Linked DNA regions of Homo sapiens: region 1 is linked to region 2. The links come from fine-mapping of genetic effects on gene expression. A gene starts in region 2. The other region holds a variant in brackets. All regions are shown on one strand. Distances are from middle to middle. Region 1 has its middle 51 kb from the start of MIR5197. Region 2 holds the start of HMHB1 (histocompatibility minor HB-1).

Evidence for each region.
Region 1: its variant is fine-mapped to the expression of HMHB1 in lung (TOPMed, PIP above 0.99).

The regions. Positions count from the first base shown.
Region 1 is chr5:143,725,705-143,735,395 of GRCh38, reverse strand. No RefSeq gene overlaps it. Among named protein-coding and RNA genes, the nearest start is that of MIR5197, 51 kb to the right of the region's middle. The variant CAG/G (reference allele first, on the strand shown) is at 4,051.
Region 2 is chr5:143,808,123-143,817,813 of GRCh38, reverse strand. HMHB1 (histocompatibility minor HB-1) reads right to left here and starts at 5,653. Exons shown (of 2, transcript NM_021182.3): 1 at 5,510-5,653. The coding sequence starts at 5,546.

The DNA.
Region 1 (9,691 bases), 82 kb after region 2:
GTTAAGCTGCTTTTTCAGACTGACAACCGGAAAAGTGGAGAGCTGAATTTTAAACCTAGGAAATATAACTCCCTGCCATATCAGAGTTCTAAACCCTTGCTTCTCAAAGAGCAGTTTCTGGACCAGCACCTTACATGAATTTTTGAGAAATGCCCAACCTCAGACCCCACCCCAGACCTACTTAACGAGGCTGCATTTCAACAGAGATTTGTAAACACACTGAAGTTTGAAAAGCACAAGGCATTTCTCCAGGTGTGTTCTAGGCATCACTAGCATGGAAAACACTTGTGAGTGCTAGCTAACTATATAGATTTCAGGCCTATCAGAAATCTCTGCAGCTGGTTTCAAAGATGCTGCATCATCAACGAACTCCTAGGTGATGGCTATGTATGCTTAATCTTGCGAACCACTGCTTTTAGTTCTCCTGCCCTGTGCTTTGCTTGACCATTAAAACAAGAAGGTCAAATTGGAGCAGGTGAATGAATGTTCTCCACCTAATGATGATAAAAGGAATTTGGAGAATAGCACAGGCAGCCAAATTAAGGAAGACCAGGGAGAAACTTTCTCTTTCTTGTCTTTACTATGTTTCAAACCCAGATTGTGGCATTGGCCTTTTATTTGAAGTCTAATTTTGTTTGGTTTTATTTTGTTTGGTTTTTGTTGGCTTTATTTATAAGGATGCCTTTGTGAAAATCTATACTATTTCTATCAGTGACTCCAAAGCCAGAGCTCAAGTTGTTTCTTTTACCTTGGACTTACTCACGTATTTTCTTCCTCTACAAACCAAAAAATGTGAAGTCGTGTCTCAACATGTTTCAAAGCACTCCACAGGAAGGTACCATGTTGAGAAAGGTATGGAGCACATCTGATAGACTGAGGTGGGTGACTGTGATAGGTATAACCTTAAAGTAATACAGAGTGAGGCAGGCGATGCTGATCAAGTTCTTGTCTAAAGTCTGTGTTGACACCAATAGAGACTCCAGAAGTTGAGAAAGCAGCAAAAAAAAAAAAAAAAAAAGAGAGAGAGAGGATCTTGAGCTATTAGTTGTAGTCCTGTTCTGTCACTAGCTATCAGCATGACTCTGTGAGAGTTACTTAATTTTTTCAAAGCCTAGTTTCCTCATTTGTTAAAGCAGAGGGTTTTTCAGGTACTTCAATTGCAATGACCTACAGGGCCAGGCAGGTAATGTAAATGCGTGAAGTCAGCGGCAAATCAGGGGGAAGTACAAGCCACTGAGAGCATGCGCCTCCTGAAGGCATTCAGGCACAGTTCTTCCTGAAACACAGTACCAGCCAAACAAAACAGATATGCGGCTGAATTTAACCCAGGATAGACTGTCTCTCGGGGTCCTTCCAGCACATAGCCAAAAGTTTTAGAGTTTCTTAACCATTGGGGTTCAACATGTCCATTGCATACCAGTATTAAACCAGAATCAGGAGGAGATTGAGGAGACCCAATAGAAAATGTTGATGATCTCATTCCTGTTACTTAAACTGGGAACAAGTGGCAAGTTGCTGAGCTTCCCACAGACTAGCTGAGGACACAGTGCCAAAGAGGAACCTGCATTCTTTTCCCTAAATGTAATGAGGCTGAAAAAAGATTCTGAAGAAGATGTAGAGTTATTTTGGTAGAGCTTCCAAGAAGACTCTGATGCAAGGTAATGGGAAGGGGGGTTGAATCGTTTATTTTGTTCATTTTGCTCTGTCAGTGGGGGAGGGGGGGAGATTAAGATTTTAAATAAAAGTTGATATGATAGCTATCATAAAAATGTGTGGTTTGGGTAATATCTCCAACGCTTTAATGGGAAATTCAGTTATTCTGTATTTCCAGGCATATGGTGGTTCCTCAATCAGATGTTTGATTATTAATTTAATGCATTCGTTCTCAAAGTGTGGCCCCTGCGCCAACAGCATCAGCAATACCTGTGAAGCTGTTAGAAATGCAAATTCTCAGACTGTACCTCAGATCTACTGAATCAGAAACTTGGGACTGGCGTCCGGCAACATGTGTTTTAATGAACCATCCAGGTGATTCTGATGCATCCTAAAGTTTGAGAATCACTGGTTTAATATTGTTAATTGGAGCCACTGGCTAGGTCATGGGTCTGAGCAATGTTTCAATTCTGACATTATGCCATGTTCTTCATATTTATGGGTATTTAAGTCATTCATTTCCAAGTATCAATGGGTCCTCTAAGTAATCAGTAGGGAGTTGATCTGGATGCCAAAATCAAAGAGGTACAATCGATTAAAACTGTCATTGAATAGAATTCATGCACATTCTTCAGGTAAGTGAAGGATCATTCTTGTTACGTATTCATTCCTTTTTAGTGCTTGTTGATTACACATGTTTTATTCTGTAGTATCAGGTTAAATGGTTCAGAAGCATCCTGTGTAAGCAGTAATTTGATGTAGCATGACTTCACTATATAACCCTTTATATAATATCATCAGTCCATCATCAGGGAAAAAAAAAAACAGCACACTCCTAAATAAAAGGGACCTGTCACTTAATTTTTCTCTGAGCATAGCAGTGGGAATCATTTCATCAGTTTCTTTGCATGCAGGAACAATGCATCTCTGCAGTATACAGGTTTGTTAATGCCTGTTATTTTGAGATGATTACATTTTTTGCTTGTTAATATACTGTTCTCTTGTGATCTTAAAAATGTTTCCCATTAGTCATCATTGTTCTCATATGGTACCTGAAAGAATTAACCATGTCCTCTATGTAGACATGGTTAATCTACATCGGTGTTCATTTCTGAGACAAGAAGAAATGCTTAGAATTAGAACACAATGTGGGCTACTGCCTAGCAGTGATTGATCTGTGAGGGCTTATAAATTGGTTGCTAGGCTTTCTAAGTGACATGCAATAGTAAGGGAAACTGAAAACAGGAAATATTGTCTCCCATTTATTCCAGGATGCCTTATACTGAGATCTTGAATTTAGGCTCTGTCTGTTCAATGCAAATGTTTACATGTCCTCTCTTTTGTCTCTGAAAACCACATAACACCAATTATTTTTCTTTCTCTATATATAAACATGCAAATAGCTTATGTAATCAAATATACGTGTGCATAAACTGATTACTTAGAAAGTTAACAAGCCCTGCAACCATTTTTTAGTGAATTGTTATAAATTGTCCTTGATTTCATAATTCTCCACAAAATGATCAAACTTCATCAACATTCATGGGATCTGCTGAGTCTCCTCTTGGTTTTTTTAGCAGATTGGCTGGTCTATTAGAAGTAAGACTTGATTAAAGTTTTTGAAGATTACTGCAGGCCCACTCTTTCCTTATCGTTCATAGAATACTTAGCACAAACCTAATTGGCAGGTGTTTTCTACGAATCTACAATGTGTGAGGCAATGCACCCGAGCACAAGATTTTTGGCAGTGACAAGATTGAGTTTGCCCTTCTCCTGACTAACTGGTGGTGTAGTAGAGACCACTAACTAGTCACCAGTGTTCATCTCCTCTTCTTCATGGGTTTACATTTTGCAGCTTCCTTTGCTGCTGGGTGTGGCATGTGGCTGAATTCTGCCAATAAGTAATGTAGGGTATGAGTACTTGTGGGATGTGTCATTCTACCCTGGCCCTAAAACGCTTCCATGCACCCATCTCCACACACGCTTTCATGCCCCCTACACTTCCCTAACTAGTTCGCTGGGAAGAAAGACATTGAAAAAATAGCAAAAGTGTTTGAGAGGTAAGAAGGTGAACTATCGGACATGACCTTATATGTAGGGACCTTCAGGTCTCATAGTCCTCAGAAAGAAAAAAAAATTTCATTTGGCTTGATTATTTGTTGTGAATTGTTACGAGTTTTACTTAAATGAGGGGAGACCACAAAAGAGATTAAGCTGAGTATAGTGGAGACAAATCCAACAAATTAAGAAATGTGAGATTATGTAGACTCTAAGAAATTGGTTAATTTCTTTAATTCATTTGTATTAACAGAAGGACAGTGCTAGAGCACAAAAGCCGATGCAAGCGTGTTTTGTAGTCTTAGGCCACATGAGAATAACTGCAATTACTTATGTACA[CAG/G]AGTGTGCGGCTCCTTTCCCTATAGTCTTTGAAAACTTTGACTATGCCATGTGAAATATGTACTTCAATAAGGAGGATCTTTCAGGAATGTTTTGTTCTCATATATAATTTGATCATTTAGGGGTTGCTTTGAACAGTGATATACAAGGGGGAAGGTGTTGAAGTGAGAGCAGTCTGCCAAGGTATAAAGGGGTTCATTGTCTGTAGATAACTTAAAAATGATAATAAACCCAACTGAAAGCTAGTCTGCTTATTATTACCATGCACCAGCAATTCTAAACAATGCCAGTGACTTAAAAAAATACTCTTTCCACCAGGGAAACCTCCTGGTAGAAAGGGGTTTACACAACCCGCTACCTTTGCTCCCCAACCCAGCTTGATATATACCACTAGACACCTTAAAGTATCTATTAAGGGCAGTTTTCAATAGCTTTCAGTATAACAAGAGATATTCTGCAATAGGAAATATTATATAATCATAGAATTTTTAATAGTGCATCACCCAGGAAAGTAAATCAGAGGCTATTTTTTCTGGCCTGAAAAAAAAAAAAAAAGTGGAACCAATGACTTCAGGAAGGCTTCAAGCAAGAGCTTGTTCTACAGATTTTTAAAAGACCTGAGCAATATAATGTAACAAAGAAGAGGAAGCATTGGATAAAGGGGAGAGCAAATTCCAAAGCTAGCTAAGTGAGCCAAGACTGGAGATGACCTTAGGTAGAGACTAGTGGAATATGACAACAGTTCAGCCAAGTTGGTATAGCTGGCACAGGACTCAGGTGACAAGTGTCCAAATGTTCTGCTGTGTTTGGAAGTTATCAGGTCCTCGTGAGTGTTAATATCACATAGTCAAAGCATTGGTTTTACAAAATATTACCAATCTGCTGTGAATAACTAGTACCATAGTTTGGGACAGGGAAAAAATTAGATATACAACCATGGCAATTCATATGGAACACATGATCCATGTTATGGTTCTGGGTTTTATAAGTGATGACTGCAGGGCCCCATTACGCTACACAGTGCTTGGTCATTCAGTTTGCAGTTGTGTGAAGCAATCTTGATTGTGCTGACCTGCCAACAGCAGGTCTGGGCTTAGTAATACGGGGGGCATGTAGGGCTTCAAATGCTGGATACCAAGCCTTAGATGATCAGTTTGATCTCTGCCTTTACCAGTTTAATATTCCATAAATTGTTGGTTTTGACCATCTCTTTGACCATAATTGGACCTCATTGAAATAAGGTGTCATTTGAGACTGACACCTCTTTTTTGTGCTGACCCACATCAAAGAATTTACAAAGAGGGATTTGAGAGGGAGTATGACCACCAGGTTCAGACACATAAGAAAGTTAAGGAAATGAGATGATATTGAGAAAAATGGGCATTCAACACCAATTTAAATCATGGAAACTATGTTAATATCTAATGAAACCTCATTTGCCATGGCATAAACAACAATCATCAAACCTCAACAAGAACAGAGAAAACATTACTATATTTCTCATCCTTGAACATTGATCATTATTGGTCCTCAGTGAGCTACAATTTTGGGCATGCTGCTATCATGAATAGCCATTGCATCATTATATTGGCCAATTTCAACAAGGTAAATATCAATAATGAAAGTAAGCTTACTTCTAATGTGGTCCTTCCCCTGCTGCAAAAACATATTGCAGTTCTTTAGAGTAAATGTAAGATGGAGTGAATAGTTGTCTCATCTGTTGTTACCTTTCTTCATCTGAGACACAGCATTACAACTTCATTGGCAGGGAATTAAGAGAAACTTGCCCGACAAAAGCTCTGTGCAAATTCCTGTCCCTTCTGTGCCAACCAAACAGAACAATGTTTGTAGAAACCTTTCCTCTTGAATTTTTAGTGTGGTTCCAAAAGCAGAGGCAGAGAGGATGAACTACCCAGGAAGGACAATGGAGGGAAGATGTGAGGCACAGCATTTCTTATTAAAAGGAAGTGAGCATGGTAAATGGGCCCTATGTATGAGCCAGAATTGCAGTTCTATCAAAATTTCCACTGATGGGTCCAAGGATCCCAAAATCTTAGGTCAGCTTCTTATGCTAAAAATCGACAAAACCCTTAGTACTCAAACTCTCTAGGCAGCCAGACTTGTAACTGGAATTTTAAACATACTTTTTGCAAGTTGCCAAAACCTTCATTTTTCTTTTTAAAAAATCTATTAAGCTAAATCTTTTCAGAAGATCACTATTTCTTTTCAGCGTTGCTGAAATTTTTTTAATTTGTCTCTTGGAGGCATAAACAATCAATGTGGCCATTAATTTGGAGGCCTTTCTCTCTGACAATGGTGCAAATTGAAAACTAATCATTCGAAAGATGTTCCAACTAATCAGGTCAGGGGGAGAAATGGAGAAATGAATAGTATTCCTCATAGCCCAGCTAGAGAGGCTTGCTTGCTTTTTTTTTTTTTTTTTTTTTTTTTTTTTTTTTTTTTTTTTTTGCTGTGAGTTTTAATTTAAGAAGAAAACAAATTCAGGGGGGAAAAAGGACAGAATTTGCCAGTACTGCTTTTTCCAATGATACTTTTAAAATCTTCCCAAAATATAGTATTTTTATTGGTTTTAAATATCTGAGGGCCCTTTCAATTTATTTTAGCCCCATTTTCCTTTTGTTTTATATTACAATACATATATATTTACTTTTTTTTCCTTTGGAAAGTTTCATTAGTTTGTAGCATGTGAGATTTATTTAAGTGCTTTTCTCAATGTCTGAGGCTATATTATTGAATTGCAGAGCTGGTTTTTAAGTTTACTAGTTATTCAAATTTGCTGTCCCCAGTAATCAAGTTATGGTCAAGGAATTCCCTTGCATAGGGAAAATGCTTTTACATTTTCTCTAATAGAACTAAGGTCTACCTTCCATCCCAACTCTGGATGTCCTTTTCTGGTTGGTGACCAAGGGCCAACAGAAAGAGAAAGGGAGACTTAATGACGTTTTATAGAAAACTAACTATATGAAATAAACTCCACAAGCTAGAGTTTGGAGTCATTTAAAGCATTTTCTAAATTACTCAAAGTGTCATTGATTTGAAAACTCAGACTGCATTCTTAAGCATCACAATCAAACCACAGTATCACCTAATCTTTTGGATTAAGGAAATGCCTTATGGAGTGAGAAGTAATATAACCTCTCCTTCAACAAAACGTAGGGGTTGGGGGAAGGTACAGGAGCTGCTACTAGTTGTAGACCAATGGCTCACTGAAACTTCAGAGCCGCCTCACTACACCACCATGCTGGAGCACTTTCACCCAAGACCGTTGCTGGCCCAGTGGAGCACTTTCACCTGTGGCCCCACTGCCATCCCATTGGAGTGCTTTTGCCAGCAGCCCCTGATGGAGCACGATTGCCAGTGGAGAGGGAGCACCTCGGCCCCCTCAGTGCAGCCAGTGTTTGACATCGAGAAACCAGAGAACAAAGCCACAGACCCAGTCCCAGTCCCTCCCAGAGTTAAAGCAGGCAGCCCAAGAGTGCCAAGCTGAGCCTAGGACTTCTGAAAGCATCCAGAAATGACGCCAGTCAACTAAACCCAACTTATACTACTGTCAAACCTTTAAGGGCATTGAAAAATTTAAAAGCTTCAAACCAGCAATGGTGTGTTGGAGAAAAAAATGTGAAGAACGTAAAAGTTAAAAGCCCCATCCAAAGGACAGCAACTTCAAAGGTTAAAGGAACATCAACCCACACAAATCAGAAAGAACCAGTGTGAGAATTCTATAACTCTAAAATCCAGAGCACCCCTTTACCTCCACATGAGCCCACTAGCTCCCCAGCAATGATTCTTAGCCAAAATGAAATGACTGAAATGACAGATAAGGAATTCAGAATCTGTATGGCAAAGAAGCTCATCAAGATTCAGGAGAAAGTTAAAACTGAATCCAAGGAATCCAGTAAAACTATCTAAGAGCCGAAAGACAAAATAGCCATTTTAAGAAAGAATCAAACTGATCTTCTGGAATTAAGCTCCCTACAAGAATTTCATAACTCAGTCAGAAGCATTAACAGCATATTAGACCAAGCTGAGGAAAGAATCTCAGAGCTCATAGACCAGTTCTGCAAATCAACTCGGACAAAAATAAAGAAAAAAGAATTTTTAAAAGTAAAATTGTGGGCTGGGCGTGGTGGCTCATGCCTGTAATCCCAGCACTTTGGGAGGCCGAGGTAGATGGATCACGAGGTCAGGTGATTGAGACCATCCTGGCTAACACAGTGAAACCCCATCTCTACTAAAAATACAAAAAATTAGCCAGGCATGGTGGCGGGTGCCTGTAGTCCCAGCTACTCAGGAGGCTGAGGCAGGAGAATGGCAGCAACCCGGGAGGCGGAGGTTGCAGTGAGCTGAGATCGTGCCACTGCACTCCAGCCTGGGCGACAGAGCGAGACTCCATCTCAAAAAATAAAATAAAATAAAATTGTAAAGGCACAGTGGCTCACATCTGTAATCCCAGCACTTTGAGAGGTCAATACATGTGGATCACTTGAGCTCAGGAGTCCAAGACCAGCCTGGGCAACATGGTGAGACCCCATCTTTATCAAAAATACGAAAATTAGCTGGGCATATTGGTTCACACCTATAGTCCCAGCTACACAGGAGGCTGAGGTGGGAAGATCACTGGTGCCTGGAAAGTCAAGGCTACAGTGGGCCATGATTGCACTAATGCACTCCAGCCTGGGTGACAGAGTGAGGCCCTGTCTCAAATAAATAAATAAAATCCCCAAGAAACATGGATTACATAAAGAGACGAAATCTGCGACTCATCGGCATTCCTGAAAGAGTAGGAGAGAGAGTAAGCGACTTGGAAAATATATTTTAGGATATAATCCACGAAAATTTCCCCACTCTTACTAGAGAGGATGACATGAAAATTCAATAAATACAGAGAACCCCTCTGAGATACTGTTAATGGTAACCAGAGAGAAGAGTCAGGTCATTTTTTTTTTTTTTGAGATGGAGTCTCACTCTGTCACCCAGGCTGGAGTGCAGTGGCACTATCTCAGCTCACAGCAAGCTCTGCCTCCTGGGTTCATGCCATTCTCCTGCCTCAGCCTCCCGAGTTGCTGGGACTATAGGCGCCTGCCACCACGCCCAGCTAATTTTTTTTTCTTTTTTGCATTTTTTGTAGAGATGGGGTTTCAGCATGCCAGCCAGGATGGTCTCGATCTCCTGACCTCATGATCCACCCACTTCGGCCTCCCAAAGTGCCAGGATTACAGGCATGAGCCACTGCACCCAGCCTGAGTCAGGTCATTTATAAAGGGAACCCTGTCAGGCTAGCAGCAGACCTCTTAGAAAATTTACAAAGCAGAAGAGACTGAGGGCCTATTTTCAGCATCGTTAAAGAGAACAAATTCCAACCAAGAATTTCATATCCTGCCAAACTAAGTTTCATAAGTGAAAGAGAAATAAAATCCTTCTCAGACTAAGCAGATGCTAAGGAAATTTATTAGACCAGCTTTACAAGAAGTCCTTAAGGAAATGCTAAACATAGAAACAAAAGAAAGACACCTGCTAAAACAAAAACACACTTAAGCACATGGCCCACAGACACTATAAAGCAACTATACCAATCAAGTCTACAAAACAACCAGCTAACAACACAATGAAAGAATCAAA
Region 2 (9,691 bases):
TTGTGAAAATGACCATACTGCCAAAAGCAATCTACAAATTCAACACCATCCCCATCAAAATACCACCATCATTCTTCACACAATTAGGAAAAAACAATTCTAAAATTCATATGGATCCAAAAAAGAGCCCGCATAGCCAAACCAAGATAAGCAAAAAGAACAAATCTGGAGGCATCACATTACCTGATTTCAAACTATACTATGAGACATAGTCACCAAAACAGCATGGTACTGGTATAAAAATAGGCACATAGACCAATGGAACAGAATAGAGAACCAGAAATAAACCCAAATACTTACAGCCAACTGATATTTGACAGAGCAAACAAAAACATAAAGTGGGGAAAGGACACCCTTGTCAACAAATGGTGGTGGGATAATTGGCTAGCCACGTGTAGGAGAATGAAACTGGATCCCCATCTCTCACCATATACAAAAATCAACTCAAGATGGATTAAGGACTCAAATCTAAGACCTGAAACTATAAAAATTCTAGAAGAGAACATTGGGAAAACCCTTCTAGACATTGGCTTAGGCAAGGATTTCATGGCCAAGAACCCAAAAGCAAAGGCAATAAAAACAAAGATAAATAGCTGGGACTTAATTAAACTAAAGAGCTTTTACGCAGCAAAAGAAACAGCAGAGTAAACAGATGACTGACAGAGTGAGAAAAAAATCTTCACAATCTATACATGTGACAAAGGACTAAGGACTAATATCCAGAATCTACAACAAACTCAAACAAATCAGCAAGGAAGAAAAAAATCCCATCAAAAAGTGGGCTAAGGACATGAATAGACAATTCTCAGAAGAAGATATACAAATGGCCAACAAACATATGAAAAAACACTGAGCATCACTAATGATCAAGGAAATGCAAATCAAAACCACAGTGCAATACCATCTTACTCTGCAAGAATGGCTATAATCAAAAAATCAAAGCACAGTAGATGCTGGCATGGATGCAGTGAACGGGGAACACTTTTACACTGCTGGTGGGAATGTAAACTTGTACAACCATTATGGAAAACAGTGTGAAGATTCTTTAAAGAACTAAAAGTAGAGCTACCATTTGATCCAGCAATCCCACTACTGGGTATCAACCCAGAGGAAAAGAAGTCATTATGCGAAAAAGATACTTGCACACACATGTTTATAGCAGCATAATTTGCACGTGCAAAATCATGGAACCAATACGAATGCCCATTAATCAATGAGTGGATAAAGAAACTGTGGTATATATATACAATGGAATACTACTCAGCCATAAAAAGGAATTAATTAATGGCATCCACAGTGACCTGGATGAGAATGGAGAGTATTACTCTAAGTGAAGTAACTCAGGAATGGAAAACCAAATATCATATATTCTCACTCATAAGTGAGAGCTAAGCTGTGAGGACGCAAAGGCATAATAATGACACAGTGGACTTTGGGGACTCAGGGGGAAAGGGTGGGAAGGGAGTGAGGGATAAAAGACTACAAATAGGATGCAATGTATACAGCTCATGTGATGAGTGCACCAAAATCTCAGAAATCACCACTAAAGAACTGACTCATGTAACCAAACACCACCTACTCCACAATAACCTATGGAAATGAGAATATTTAAAAAATATATTCTTGGTAGCAGAATAATATTCTCCCCCAAGATGCTCATGTCATAATCCTCAGAACTATGGCAAAGGATAATTAAGTTTGCAGATGGAATTTAGATTGCTAATCAGGTGACCTTAAAATAGGGAGATTCTTTTGGGTTATCTGAGAAAGCTTAATGTAATAAAAGGGCCCTTAAAAGTGGAAAAGAGGGCTGGGCACAGCGGCTCACGCCTGTAATCCCAGCACTTTGGGAGGCCGAGGCGGGTGGATCATGAGGTCAGGAGATCGAGACCATCCTGGCTAACAAGGTGAAACCCCGTCTCTACTAAAAATACAAAAAATTAGCCGGGTGCGGTAGCGGGCGCCTGTAGTCCCAGCTACTCGGGAGGCTGAGGCAGGAGAATGGCGTGAACCCGGGAAGCGGAGCTTGCAGTGAGCCGAGATTGCGCCACTGCAGTCCGCAGTCCGGCCTGGGCGACAGAGCGAGACTCCGTCTCAAAAAAAAAAAAAAATACAAAAATTAGCCAGGCATGGTGGCGCTCACCTGTAATCCCAGCTACTTAGGAGGCTGAAGCAGGAGAATCACTTGAACCCGAAATGTGGAGGTTGCAGTGAGCCAAGATTGCGCCACTGCACTCCAAATCCAGCCTGGGCGACAGAGCGAGACTGCATCTCAAAAAAAAAAAAGAAAAAAATACAAGGAAAAAAGAAAAAGTAAAAAGTAGAAGAGGGAAGCAAAACAGGAAAGTTAAAGGGATACATTACTTTGAAAAAAGGTTAGAGAGCTGCAACATTGTTAGCTTTAAAGACGGAAGATGGGACCATGAGCAATGGAATGCAGGTAAATCTGTAAGTTGGAAAAGGAAAGGAAAAGGATTCTCCCTAAGAGCCTTCAGCTAAAACCACAGCCCCACTGACACCTTGACTATAGCCAAATAAGGCCCTGATTGGATTTCTGTCCTCTTAACTGTAAGATAATGAATTGTGCAGATTTAAACTACTAAATTTGTGGTAATTCAGTATAGCAACAATAGGAAACTAATACAGAATTAGGGAAAAGTTCAGTAATTTAGGTCTCTGAACTTTGTTAGAAAGGTCAGTTCTCTCTTCTCTTCACCCCTAATCCCTTCATTCATGGAGCTTGCCCCATGGTGACATCCTACAATTTGCCAGCTTTGGGAACAGTATCAGACAGAGCAACATTTGCATTTTTGCACCATCCATGCTGCAAAGCTGAGCAACAGAAAGGTTTGACGGGATAACAAATATCAACAAATGAGAGCTAGGTCAGGAAGAAAACCTGGTAGAAGCCACACAATATTTGTGCAATAGCCACAGGTATTTGTGGGCACAGGTGAAGCACTACTTTGAAGGATAACTTTTAGTGGGGACAAATTCCATTTTGAGAAAGTAGGAGACTAAAAGATAAAATTTTTATAATTATGACTCTATTTGTAGGTGAGGCCAGCTTGGATTATGCTAATAATAAGGTATACACTAATACTGGTTACTTTCTGAAGTTTATGACATAATTTTAAATATAATTAGAGACGATTGAAGATTACCCCTATAATGACAGCATCCTTGCATATTAGTTTTTCAATATCTTGAGTGATAAAAAATGAGGAGGATGTGAGATGTTGTGCTGGGAAGTGCACATAGGCCTCAGACTGTCCTCTCTCTGACAGCTAAGTCCTGAGTGAGCTCCTACTATGAACTGAAACGCAAAAAATGGAAAGAGCATTTGTTGGGGCCAGTGTAAGTCAACTGTTTCCATCCTTATTCCTTAACTCAAAAACTCAAATAAAGAAAGACATTGTCAATTTCATGAGCGGTCCATATTTTTTTCTATTGACGAGAGACAAAGAATAACAAATAAAAGTATTTTATAAGGATATGAGTTATAAAATTAACTTTTTGTTATCTCCAAATTGTTATTTTGCAAGGAAAAAAATATAAGTAACAAATATGAGTATTCCTTTTTTTGGATCCATATTTGGCTGGATGCAGCCTGGACAGGTGTCATGGTTATAGATTATTGTCATGTGTCTCAGTTGTGATTTCAGTATGCTTATTGCTAGTTCTTTTATTTTGCCAATGGCTACATTTTTAATAAAGAAAAAGACAAGGATAGATGAGGAAAATATAGAACATTTTTATCTTCAATGCATGTCAGTAAGAATGATGCTATGAAATTTCAGTTAATAATGAAATTGGAGCTACAAAGACCAAATCATAAATAAAATGAATTTGCAATAGTGTTACTCATAGTAACACATAAAAATATGAAAATATCATGTGCCATATTTGCCTCTGCACTGAGTTATATCTGTACTTCTGCTTCAATACTGTAATTGGCCATCTCATTTCTATTGCCTATGGAGCAAAAGTCTGAAATAAAAAAGGTATGTTCATATTTATTACTTATATTTTTTTCCTTGCAAAATGACAATCTGGAGATAAAAAAAGTTAATTTTATAATTCACATCCTTACAAAAGAATTTTATTTGTTATTCTTCCAAAGGAAATCCACATGCCATTTACTTTATCTCTCACCAATAAAAAAAAATATGGACTGCTCATGAGACTGACAATGTCTTTCTTCATTTGAGTTTCTGAGTTAAGGAAACAAGGATGGAAACAGTTGACTTATGCTGGCCCCAACAAATGCCCTTTCCATTTTTTACTTTTCAGTTCAGCTAACATTTATTGACAGCTTTTACTGTGCCAAGCACTGTGCTAGATGCCAAGGATACAGAAATGATTAAAACACAGTTCCTTCCCTCAAGAATCCCATGCTCTGATGGAGGAGGCGAACAAGTGCTTTAGGCCAAAATGTAAAACTATGAGGGCACCAAAAAGGGAGTGGTTTATTTTGCCTGGAAAGAAATAAAACCTTCATAGAAGAGGTGACATTTGAAAGGGGCCTTGAAGGAAAAAAGGGAAGGTCGGTAGTTGTCTGTATGAAACAATAAAACAGCATAAAAATTCTAAAAGAAAGTTCTGTTTGTATTCTGTGGGCTACCTGTGCAACTGGATCTGAGCATTCCCTGGGGTGGCTGAGGGGGCTGTGTGGACCAGACAGAGCACAGGCTTCCCCGGCCTCATCAGTCCAGGCTGAGTGACCTCCAGTTGCAGGAAGGAGAAAACAGCAGATCCCTTCAGTGCACGGCACCAACACCTCCTATAACGTCAACCCAGGGCTCCGTGTGTCCTCTTCAAGAGGAGAAAACAAGACAAAAAAACAAACAAACAAACAAAAAACACGACAGCAGGGCCTTTCTGCCATTTCCTGGCTCTGAAATGAGGTTAGTGAGTTAAGGAATGAAGCCATCGTGTCTTTATCTGTAAACTGGGGAAAGCTATACCCCCCTCAAGTGCTTCTGTGAGGATGAAAGAGAGAAATGCATGCAAAGCCCCCGGCACATGATCCTAAGAAGTGGGAGCATGGCGATGATGGTGATGATGGTGGCCATGCTAAGGATAAAGGACGGGTCTGGTCTCTGGGCTGCCTTGGGAAGCCTGAGCATCCCACGCGGTGGGCAAGAACAATGTGATCTTGGCTACCCTGGCTCCGACCCAGAGGGACTTCCTGCCCATCTGCACTTCCCTTGCCGTTGTCCTTGTGGCTCAGGTGGTGCAGGCAGCTGCTCCAACTGCTGCCTCTGGTGCCCTGACAGCTGCAGGCAGCCAGGCAATGGGCTATGAAACCGAACCTCAACTGGAAACTATCCGCCCTAAATAATCCCAGCAACAAGGGCCGTCTCACTCCTCTCCCCTGCCTTCCGCCATCCCTGTTTTCACCTGTTGTGGTTTCCCTCTCATTCCACCAGCATTTTCTTTCATTTTCTCTGCCCCTTCGCTGCCTCTTTCCCTCTCTCTCTGTTCTCCCTCCTCCTCGCTCCCTCACCTCTTTTTTCTTCTCTGCATTCTGGCTGCTCCTCCAGTTCTGGTTTCTCCACTGTGGTGTGGCAGAGGATGTGAGGTCAGAAGGCTCAGGGCCTGCCCGGCTTCTGAGATGCGGGGCAAGCCGCCTCGGCCTCCTGGGATGTGGTTTCCTCATCTGCAGAATTGGACCAGAATGACTCTGGAGTGTTCCTTCCGTTCTAAACTCCCGTTCTGTTACATTGTGTTGTGTTAGCCTTTGTGCCTGCTTTTCCTGCTTCAGCTGTCTCATCTGTCCACCTGCCTCTTCCATCTGCATCCCACCACTCGGGTCCAAGCTGCCAGCATCCCTTGCAAGGACCCCTAGAGCAGCCTCCTGCTATTGGAGGTCTCTCTGCTCCTGTTCTTATCCACATCCAATGTGTTATCCACACAGAATCCACAGTGACCTTATCAAAATAGAGATGAGATTGCTCACTCAGCTTAAATCCTCCAAACTCCTTTACACCCCTTTTCTATCATAGGTCCCTGTTTATGTTCTTCAGAGTAATTATTATTGCCTGAAATTATCTTTATTTACTCATGAATTTCTTAATGTTGATGTATCATTTGCTGTCTGTCTTCCACACTAGAATGCAGGCTCCAGGAGTGATGGACTTGATTGTCTCGTTTACTCCATATCCTCACTGGAGGGGCCAGCGCCTTTATTCTCTCCATAAACACTGAATGAAGGAACCTCCCTTTGCCGCAGAATCCATCTCTCCCCTTCTTGAGAGTATTCTCTCCTAACCACACCATTTCTTACTTAGAAATACCTGTGCCTGCCAGAAATCCTGCCCATCCTTCTCTGTCATTTCTGATATAATTCCCCTCATTCACTTTTCTCAGTCAGCCGGGTCCTGTGTTCCCATGGGCTATGGTAAAGAACAATGGCAATGATGAAGCTAGTTCTTCTTTCACTTTAATGTCAATCTGTGCCGTTGGATGCCTTAAGATAAAATAACTTAACAACTCTGAGACTTGAATCTAGTTAATTGTCTTACAATGCTGAGAAAGAGACTTCTTTAAGAAAATATATTAAAACTTCCAAAATTCTGTGCTTGGTTCTTGGGGAGATGTTAGGAGTAGCCATTTTCTTTAAAACACCTCTTTAAAGTAGGTAATGTTAATATGTCCATTTTACAGGTAACAAAACTGGGATTTAGAGAGTGCACAACTGGACAAGGCCATAGAGCCAGAGGTGCATGGAGCCAGGATTTGAATGGAAGAAGTGCAACGCCAGACCCAGGCACCTAGCCACCACATGGGTGACCCTAGTCACCCTCTCACTCCCTAGATTAGATTACTCTGCATTATTTTCACCATAACACTTATAAATACCTGATGCGATCATATTTCTTGTGTCTATTTGCTTCCATTATAACATAAACTCCATCCAGGCAGTTACCATATCTGACCTGTTCACTGCACTTATTCCAATACTTACAATAGTGCCTCATACATAATGGACGTTCAATAAATATTTGCTAAATGAATTAGTTATTTGCATATTGAGGATGAGATATGAAAGAAGGCCTGATAATTCTGTATATAAAACTCCATCTTAGCCAGGCACTGTGGCTCACACCTGTAATTCCCAGCACTTTGGGAGGCCAAGGCAGCAGGATCGCTTGAGCCCAGGAGTTTGAAACCAGCCTGGTCAACATAGACCTCATCCCCACACAAAAAAAAATAATAAATAAAAAATAAAAAATTAGCCAGGCACGGTGGTGCATACATGTAGCCTCAGTTACTCAGGAGGCTGAGGCCAGAGGATCAATTGAGCCCAGGAGTTTGAGGCTGCAGTAAGCCATGATCACTCCAATAATGCACCCCAACCTGGATGACAGAGAAAGACTGGGTCTGTAAAAAACAAAAACCATCTTCTTTGATGATGGAATTTTCTCAAAAGTATCTTCAGTGTTGGCATATCTTTTTCCTTTGAGAATGCATTGGCTTTTTGCAATTAGCCAAAACTGTTAAAGACTGCTTTTTTGTCAAAAAGAACATATGGTCATAAAGCATCATCACTGCTTTTCTTGCCCTGAAATTAGATCTATTTGTGGAGGTGTGGAGGTCTAACTTTCTGTGCTTTGGGAAGCTTATGCACTCTGGTAAGGCCCCTGGACTCTGTCTCAGAATCATCATTTTTATAAGTATAAAAGAAAATATATAGAATTATAAAGAGCCAATTATATTGAATACAGTTATCAAAATGTTAAAAATTGTGACATAGTAACATATTTTCTTCTTTAATAACATATTAAATAAGAAGATCTAAAAATGTCTAATATCAACCTGGGAATGATATTTACAGATATCTGCAAAAACTAAAATGTGTTATGAAAATAACAGAATTAAATTAGACTCAGAATTTTCACTGGTAACAAAAATTTAGGTATTACTATTGCTTTCATAATTAAAGGAAACTTTAACTTTCTATTTTTCCTTTTTTTTTTTTTTTTTGAGACGGAGTCTTGCTCTGTCGCCCAGGCTGGAGTGCAGTGGCACAATCTCGGCTCACTGCAAGCTCCACCTCCTGGGTTCATGCCATTCTCCTGCCTCAGCCTCCTGAGTAGCTGGGACTACAGGCACCCGCCACCACGCCCGGCTAATTTTTTGTATTTTTAGTGGAGACGGGGTTTCACCATGTTAGCCAGGATGGTCTTAATCTCCTGCCCTTGTGATCCGCCTGCCTCGGCCTCCCAAAGTGCTGGGATTACAGGCTTGAGCTACCGCGCCTGGCCAGGAAACTTTAACTTTCATAAAGAGGTTAGTACAAAGAAAGATATAATTTTTCCTGCCCAGATTTACAGGCCTCTGAATCTTATCCACAGACTCCATGGACCCCAAATTTTAAAACCCTATATTAGAGAAATCCAGAATAGGTTCAGCAGTAGCAGCTACATTTAAGTAAGTGTATTACCTCTTAAGGTGACCTTAAACAGGTTATTCTTTACATGGTGTATAAGTTCTGACATACATGGTTATTTTTAAAATTCAGCACCACTTTTAAACCTACTGTAAACCTTTTAAAATTTTAAATTATTTAATTTTAAATTAATTTTTAAAATTAAAGATTTTAAATTAAGTTGTTAAAATTCAGCATCACTTTATACCTACCAATAGCGGGCATAGTTATAATCATTTTAATCTGTTTGCTTATTCTGTATCTACATATATATGATATAATATTCTGAAAACTTTTAATCCTTGACTATTATAAATTTATAAATTTTATTGGTAGATTTTATTTTATATTTTTAATTTGGTCCTCCTCTTTTATCTTTTCTTGTTTATTTTGACCAACATCTCCCTAACCCCTTTCCCAAATTTATTGATTTTTACATATTAATTTAAAACAGTTCATGCAGTCACATAATCCAAAAGTTCAAAAGGTATAAACGTACAGAAAATCTCCTTCTATCTCTGTCCAGAGTCACCTGGGTCTCTTCCTTTAGGGCAACCAATATTAGTTTCTTATATATTCTTTCAGAGATGCTTGAGATATACAAGCTTGTAAATTGTAGCATATTATCCCCATGATTTTCCACGCTCTTTTTTTTCACTTACTTCTATGTCTACAAGTTAATTCTATATTGGTGCCTTAAAACCTTCTTCATTTGTTTTTGTGGCTGCATAGTCTATTGTAAGGATGTATCATAATTATTTAACCAGTCTCTTAGTGATGGGCATTTAAGTTTTGCTATTCGATTTGCTGTTTACTATCATGAAAATTATTTGCTATTAGAAAAAGAGAGAACAGCAAAAAGTATCATCTAAGATTGGAATTTTGTCATGGACACCCACATATGTGGGACTTAGAATCATGAACCCTAAATATAAGTAGGTGGCAAGAGATGTATACCATATAGAGGTTAATATAACATATTGAAAATCACAATATCATGGATAATACCCCAACAGGATAGAGAGGAAACACAGAAACGTCATCAACCCTTTCAGTGGTCTAGGCCAGGTTTAGCATTTTTCAGGACCTAAGAGGGGATAACTGAGGGCAGGTAGGATATCCCCAATTTGACAGGCCCCTTTGGAGGAAGCTTGAAAGTTTCAACGGAGCACATTTGTTTTGTTTTGTTTACTCTGGCTCTCAGGAACAGAGGCTTGAGTTAATAACACTCTTTGGTTCATGGCGCAATGTCATCAG